2 separate regions of the Homo sapiens genome follow, and region 1 is reported to be linked to region 2. The links are microRNA targets in miRTarBase. Many come from high-throughput screens and were not tested one by one. Region 2 holds a microRNA gene; the other region holds the end of a gene's coding sequence.

Region 1 (4,000 bases), not on the chromosome of region 2:
GGCTGAGTAAAGGAAGATAAGACAGAAAAAGGCACTACTGTATGAGCCCATTTATATGAAATGTCCAGAACAGGCAAATCTATAGAGACAGAAAACAAATTAGTGGTACCAGGAGTTAAGGGGGAGAAGAGAAGGAATGACTGCTTAAGGGTACAGGGTTTCTTTTTGGGGTAATGAAAACATTCTGGAATTGATAATGATGATAATTGTACAACGTTGTGAATGTACTAACGGCCACTAAATTATACACTTTAAAATGGTGAATTTTATATGAATTTTACTTCAATTTTAAAAAAGAAAAAGAATGAAGTACTGCTGTGTGCTGCTATATAGATGAAACCGGAAAACATTATACTAAGTGGAAGATGCCAGTCACAAAAGACCACATATTATTATGATCCCATTTCTGTGAAATATCCAAAATGGGCAAATATATAGAGAAACAGCAGATTAGTGCTAGCCAGGGGTTGGGGAGGATTGGAGGGTGATATCTAAACAGTAGATTTTCTTTTGGGGTTGGTGAAAATGTTCTAAAATTGATTCTGGTGATGGTTGTACAATTCTGTAAATACACAAAAACCATTAAATCTTACACCTTACATGGGTAAATTTTATGGTAAATTGCATTTCAATAAAGCTTTTTTAAAAAAGAATCAGGGCTGGGTGCAATGGCTCACACCTGCAATCCCAACACTTGAGGAGGTCGAGGCAGGAGGATGGCTTGAGGCCAGGAGTTCAAGACCAGCCTAGGCAAGACAGCAAGACCCCCACCTCTACAAAAAATTAAAGGAAAAAAAAAAAGAATCATTGAGTTAGTGTGGAATGGACTCTGATTTCAAGGAAAAGGGAGGGATAAGATAATTTTTCTTTTTAAAAGAGAGAGGATCTATGTTGCCCAGGCTGGAGTGCAGTGGCTATTCACAGGTGCATTCATTGTGCACTACAGCCTCTAACTCCTGGGCTCAAGTGATCCACCTCAGCCTCTACATAGCTGGGACCATGCCTGGCTAATTTTTTTATTTTTGTAGAGACGGAGTCTTGCTATCCTCAAGTGATCCTCCCACCTCTGCCTCCCAAGTAGCTGGGACTATAGGGACATGCCACAGTGCCTGGCTAGAAATAATTTTTAATAGCGTAAATCAATGTACTAATGTCTTTATCTAATAGAATCTTATAGATACACCAGGAGAAAGAATAGACAGTGGTTGGCAGATCAGCAAATTAGCCTTAGGCTCCAGGCAAGGAGGCTACTGCAAAAAGTGCAGGGTACCTGGCTGAGAAGTGGAGGAACTAGGGCCTAAAATCCTTCCATGGGTGCTAGGGATGGAGGAAAGGTTTTTGTTTTGGTTTTTTTCCCCTTTCTCAAAAAGACACCATTTGCTCACCGAACTATGCTTGGGAGTTGTGTCCACCAGACTTGGGGAGAAGCGTTTTTCTAATTCATCTTACAGGCCAGCTGGGGCCAACTTCACCCCCTTGCATTATTAAACCTCTTTCTACCATGGTTAACAACCTATCCCTTTTTTTTTTTTTTTTTTTTTGAGAGAGAGTCTGGCTCTGTCTCCCAGGCTGGAGTGCAGTAGCGTGATCTTGGCTCACTGTAACCTCTGCCTCCCAGGTTCAAGCGATTCTCCTGCCTCAGCCTCCTGAGTAGCCGGAATTACAGGTGCACACCACCACACCTGGCTAATTTTTGTATTTTTAGTAGAGATGGGGTTTTGCCATGTTGGCCAGGCTGGTCTCAAACTCCTGACCTCAGGTGATCCACCCGCCTTGGCTCCCCAAAGTGCTGAGATTACAGGCATGAGGCACCACACCCAGCTGAACCATACTTTTCATCATCTTACTATTTGGCATCTGTAACACTAGGGACCACTGGCCATTAATAATCTGAACTTAGCCAGGTGCTGTGGCTCACACCTGTAATCCTAGTGCTTTGAGAGGCCAAGGTGGAAGGATCGCTTGAGGCCAGGAGTTCACGAACAGCCTGGGCAATGTAGCAAGACTCTGTCTGTACAGAAATTTAAAAATTAGCCAGGCATGGTCCCAGATACTGAGGAGGCTGAGATGGATCACTTGAGCCCAGGAGTTTGAAACTACAGGGAGCTATGATTGCACCACTGCCCTCCAGCCTGGACAATAGAGCAAAAATATGTCTTTAAAATGATAGTAACAATAAAAATAATTTCAATTCTTCCCTTAGCTACCTACCACAGCAGTGAACGTTTATACTTCACAACCACTACTACTCAGCTTCTCTACTTTATGCCAGCTAAAAGTAGGTGCTATCCCATGGTTTTAACATCTGTTCTGTTTTTCAGTGGTATCAGCTCCTCTTGTTCTAGGTACTGTCAAACCTCAAATCCCAGTCCTGATGCTTCTCTCCAGGGCCTCTTCCCAACTCTTTTGATGGACATCTCTAGGAGGATTTCATGCCAGCATTTCAAACATGACAGGAGTGCTGGGGTGAACAGAGGGCACAAAACATACACATGAGAAAAGAACCAGTGGATTCACACAATTTTGGCTTCAAGTCAGGAATAATGAATGGGACAAGGTGGAATGCTACATAAGATGGGCATGTAGATCTGATAAAGAGTGGCACAGGTTGGGAAACAAGGGAGGCTTCCACAGAAGGGAAGGGCAAAGGGTGTTCTATAGTGAAAAGGCCCAGTGGAGCGGGGGCATAGCACTATTTGGGGCTTCAGACAGTTAAAGTCGGTGCTGCATGATGCCTGGGCTTGTCTTCTCAGTCTTCTCTCTTTATCAGACAAAGAACAGGAACTTAACAAAATGTGTTGCATGGCAAAGGAAAATAGCGGTGGGATAATAGGATTGATTTGGGAAGAGGTGGAGGCAGTGAATTCAGACAACTCCAACCACTTCATAAAGGTTCTCAGGTGCAGCCAGGCTTTCCTAAGATGACTGATCTCATCTGTGCCTGGTGGCAGGAGAGACTGATCCTCCTCACAACCCCTATAGAACAGTGGGGCTCCCCCACATCTCAGACACACATAATTATATTATCATTTTATTACACTTTTTTTTAAATAGTAGAGACGGGGTCTTGTTATGTTCCACAGGCTGGTCTTGAACTCCTGGGACCAAGCAATCCTCCCACCTCTGCCTCCCAAAGTGCTGGGATTATAGGTGCAAGTCACCACGCCCGGCCTATTTTATTCCACTTCGGAGACCGCCCCCCTTGTCCCTCAGATGCATCCAAATCAGGAGTTAGGGATCATACTCCACTGTGGTCCTGAATTATAGAATAATGAAGTCCTAGATGTCAGCGGCCCCTGGCTGCATGATAGTAAGAGTATGGCTGAGCCTGTCTTGCAGATCATCCAGTACCTGTACAGGCCAGGCTACACTGTTCTCAAGCACTCTCTGTAGCCAAGTGCCAGTAATCACAGACTAGGCTACCTCTGCTGGGCCAGAAATAGCTGCCTGAACCAGGAGCTCACAGCACCATCCACTCTCATCACCAAAGCTATGCCCAGGAGAAGTCCCACGCTGCTCACAATGAAGCCCACAGCCTCAAATATGAACCTGCAAAGAAAGGCGGAGAATCTCAGGCAACAGAGTAGGTCTACTGCCTTTTCCCTGTAGAGGCAAAACCTTGGCCATCCTGGATGTTTAGGATCTTCATACTTTGTTCCAAGTTTCTCCCTCCCCACCACCTCTACTTCTCAAGCAAATCTACTCACTTAGGGGCAAACACTTTCCAGACCATGAGATGCCTGCGAAGGATGGAGGCTGCCAAGGCACAGGCCAGAATCTAGAGGAGGAGAGGAGGGGCCACGTTACTTGTGAAGGAGAGGAGGAAGCGGAGCAAAAGGAGAGTTTCTATAGGCCCCTGTAAAAAATGGAAGCAGGAGAATAGTGCATGTCAGTGGAAAAAATATTGCATGTCCTGGGCTAGGAGTTAGGAGACCTACTTCCTGCCCTGCCCCAAGCACTGACTCACTATGTGACTTTGGGCAAGTCAGTATCCATCTGC
Region 2 (4,380 bases):
CCTACTTTGAATTGTCCCACCTTTTTGGACCGGACCTAACCAACATTCATTTTACATATTTTGACTGATGTCTCATGTCTCCCTAAAATATTTAAAACCAAACTGTGCTCTGACCACCTTGGGCACACGCCCTCAGGACCTCCTGAGGCTGGGTAATGGGTGTGCATCCTCAACCTTGGAAAAATTAACTTCTGAAATTAACTGAGACCTGTCTCAAATGTTCAGGGTTCATAAACTAGTAAAATATTCTTTGAAGATAGATAGACTGTGATGAATTAAATATGAACACTGAAAACTCCAGAGCAACCGCTATTCTTTTAAAGTGACCAACTAATAAGCCAAGAGTGCAGAAAATATAACTGAATGATAAAAATACTAAATCTACCATCAGGCAGAAAAACAGGAAAATTAGGAATTACAAAAGGATGAAGTACAGAAAACAACTAGAAAGCCAGTAGATTTAAACGCATGTACATAAATAATTATAATAAATGATATAAATGCTTCAATTAAGAGAGACACTGTCAAATTATGTAAAAATAAGAAACAGCTGTACACTTTCTAAAACGAAACCATTTTAAATATGAAGACCTACGTGAAAGTTGGGTAAAAGGATGGAAAATATATTAATGCAAACAGTAAATATTAAAGCTAAAAAATCCTAGCACTATTAATTGTTAATCACACAGCGAGAGAGAGAGACTGAGCCCAAATAAATGTACTATAAAGAACCATGGAACTAAGAAAAATTAAATAGCATTTCTTGTCTTCCAGCCCATTATCTGTCTTGTCTGTCTCTCGTATTAATTTCTATGGGTTCTTCCCACTGCATAGCCTGAAGAAGAAATTAAATTTCTGCTCTCTCCAACCTGGTACTGTCTGACTCTTCTCTAGTAGTTTGGATCCAGGTGGTTGTATTCTGTGGTTTTTCCATTGGAATTAGGGTCTGTGCAGCACAGCTGGAGTTTTAGGACCATAGAGAGCTTTGGTGAGTGGTTGGCCCTGCCTACTTAACTGTAATTTTAAAAGTTTTTGGGGTTTTTTTGTTTGTTTGTTGTTTTTTTTTTGAGACAGGGTCTCACTCTGTAACCCGGGCTGGAGTATATTGGCACTATCTCCGCTCACTGCAACCTCTGCCTCCCAGGTTCAAGTGATCCTCCTGAGTAGCTGTGATTACAGGCGCGAGCCACCACACCCCGCTAAGTTTGTATTATTAGTAGAGATGGTGTTTGACCATGTTGGCCAGGGTGGTCTCAAACTCCTGGCCTTAAGTGATATGCACACCTGGACCACCCAAAGTACTGGGATTACAGGCATGAGCCACCATGCCCGGCCGACTCTGAAGATTTTTTTTTTTTTTTTTTAGATGGATTTTCACTTTTGTTGCCCAGGCTGGAGCACAACGGCACAACCTCGGCTCACTGCAACCTCTGTCTCCTGGGTTCAAATGATTCTCCTGCCTCAGCATCCAGATTAGCTGGGGTTACAGTCACCCACCACCACACCCGGCTGATTTTTTGTATTTGTAGTTGAGATGGAGTTTCACCACGTTGTCCAGGCTGGTCTCAAACTCCTGACCTCAGATGATCTACCAGCCTTGGCCTACCAAAGTGCTGGGATAACAGGCATGAGCCACTGTGCCTGGCCTGATTTTGAGGATTTTTAATGAGACAAGCAAATTAACGTGAAAACTAATGGGATAATTCAGACAAGGATTACTCGCCTTTGGGGAAGAGATGAAGTGAAAAGCTCTATTCTTGATCAGTCTAAAAATCTGCGTGTTAATTAGCCATTCGAGGTGGTGTGTGCCTTTAACCTAAGCTACTCGGGAGGCTGAGGCAGGAGAAGTGCTTGAACCCAGGAAGCGGAGGTTGCAGTGAGCTGAGATCACGCCAATGCATGCCAGACTGGGTGACAGAGCCAGACTTCATCTGAAAACAAAAACAAAACAAAAATCTGCATGTCAAAATCTCACTCGGGGCAGGATGAAAAGGGGAGTGCTGGGGGTTACAAGTTGCATTGTCCCTTGGCATAAATCTTGGTGGCCATGCGAAGGCATACACCTATAGGGACTTGAATAAAAACAGCATGAAAAGGGAGCATTTGGTCTGGGATGCCACATTCAGCCATTCAGCGTACAGTGCCTTTCACAGGGAGGTGTCATTTATGTGAACTAAAATATAAATTTCACCTTTCTGAGAAGGGTAATGTACAGCATGCACTGCATATGTGGTGTCCCTGAGGATGGGGGTGTAGCTGCGAGCATGGTGATGCCTGTTTTGCATCCTGTGCACCCACTCCTCAGTGCTGGGCTACACTTCAAGGAACTTTTTGTGCCTTCTAGACGACTGTACATAGGAATTGTGGACTCCTGAGAAAACGCATGCACTTAGGTTCCTTAAGAATTTATTTTTGCCAAATGAGGCTTGGCTCAAATAGGAAATACATTGGATAGAGGCCACAGCCATTCTTCGTCAGCTGGAATGCTTTACTCCAGATTCCTAAATTCTCTAAACTTTTTTCACTTATCAACTAGTCATCATTTGCAAGGATTCTCCTTTAGCGCTCCCAAAAGACTCTCCTGCCTCTCAGGTCCCTTCATTGCTGATCCACAGCGTCCATTTTCTGTCAAAGACTAAAACATTTTCTCATTGACTTTTAAAATACCTTTCAAAGCCTTAAGTCACCAATTTATGAAGGATTAAGCATAGTCCACCCAAGAATATTTCACTCTTTTTCATTATCTTTTTTCCCCGTTTTTTAAGAATATGTATGAACAATGGAAGGGTATGATGGAATTGATACTCAAGAGATATCTCCTAGTCTTCTCTCCCCATTTTCTTTGTGTGTGTGTGTGTGTGACAGAGTCTTGCTCTTTCGCCCAGGCTGGAGTGCAGCGGTGTGATCTGGGCTCACTGCAACCTCTATCTATCTCCCAGGTTCAAGGGATTCTCCTTCCTCAGCCTCCCGAGTAGTTGGGATTACAGGTGTGCCCCAACACACCTGGCTACTTTTTGTATTTTTAGTAGAGATGGGGTTTCACCATGTTGATGAGGCTGGTCTCGAACTGCTGACCTCCTGATCCACCCACCTAAGCCTCCCAAATGGCTGAGATCACAGGCGTGAGCCACCACGCCTGGTCCCATTTTCTTGTGTTGACACTTCTTAACTCTTAACCTAATGGAGAGAGATAGAGGGAAATACACACACACACAAACACACAAAAAAAGAGAGAGAGGGCAAAAGAGTAAGACAAGTGCCGGATGGTGTGAGGCCATCTGCAGCATGAAACTAGTATGCATTTTTGAGAAGTAGGTTATAAATAAGCTACTTATATTGCAGAAATGTGTTAAAAATGTTATAAATAGTAAGTTATTAATACAAATTTGATTCCAATGGAAATAGAGGTTATAGCATATACATCAAAAGGGAGAAAGTATAAAAAACAATTACTATATGGTTACAGGCAGGATTTTAGTTTGTTTTGTTACGTTCAGAATGGATGAATATGTTTAAGACCATTAATGTCTGGAAGTAAAAAAACAATCAGTTGAAGTATCTTTTTCAATATTAAAACAATTGCTCTAATAGATTACATAGCATCTTTTTCATTGGGGGCGGGGGAACATTCTGAACAGTAAAAAAATTCTGTCAGTTGGAAATGCTGTATGTACATAGAAATTTCCAAAGTGATAACACTTTTTAGTATATAATTTCTAAAACTGTATTATAGTGAATGCATGTGTACTTATATAATTTTAAGTCATATCCTAAAACGAAAGAAGAGAATTTAGTTAGTATCATATCTCTTTTATGATTTCTCAAAAGAGTACTCTATTCACTGTTATTTGTGGTTTTTCTTTCAGTGAAATACTTTTTTGTATCATTCATCCGTGTTTCTACCAATTTATTAAGGTTTAACTGACATAACTTTTGTATATATTTAAGGTGTACAACATGATGTTTGGATATATGTATATATTATACAATGATTAAATCCACCTAATTAAAACATAAAATAATATAAACATAACATATTTAGGTGAAACTCTAAATACAAATTATAGGATCTCTGTGGTATGCAGAATAACAGTCCCCCTCCAAAAGATGTTTACAGAGCAACCCCTGAACTCAAAAACATCACATTTTATGGTAGAAGGAAATTTGCAGATATGACTAAATATTTTGAGATTGGGATTATCCTAGATTATCTAGGTGAGTCCAACATAATCACAAGGGTTCTTATAAGTAGAAGGAAGGTGGTTAGAATAAGAGAAACATTGGAAAATGCTACAGTATTCAATAGAGGTGGAGGTAAAGTCCATGAGCCAAAGAATGATCTTCTAAAGACAATCAAGTAGATTCTCCTCTGGAGCCAAC

What was found. Region 2 holds the annotated microRNA hsa-miR-513a-5p (UUCACAGGGAGGUGUCAU, at 2,147-2,164, shown strand). A microRNA usually pairs through its seed, bases 2 to 8, with sites in the 3' UTR of a target mRNA and lowers its output. Matches are read on the target gene's strand: a 7mer-m8 pairs with bases 2 to 8, a 7mer-A1 pairs with bases 2 to 7 and ends in A, and an 8mer does both.
Region 1: miRTarBase lists PIGO as a target of hsa-miR-513a-5p. The part of its 3' UTR that is shown has no 7-base or 8-base seed match.

What each region holds. Positions count from the first base shown.
Region 1 is chr9:35,085,673-35,089,672 of GRCh38, forward strand. PIGO (phosphatidylinositol glycan anchor biosynthesis class O) reads right to left here. Exons shown (of 11, transcript NM_032634.4): 10 at 3,708-3,778; 11 at 3,016-3,549. The coding sequence ends at 3,420. Among named protein-coding and RNA genes, the nearest start is that of FANCG, 7.7 kb to the left of the region's middle.
Region 2 is chrX:147,211,322-147,215,701 of GRCh38, reverse strand. It overlaps MIR513A1 (microRNA 513a-1), which reads left to right and starts at 2,111; the gene lies at 2,111-2,239. The region is part of intron 1 of LOC105373347 (periphilin-1); the gene reads right to left.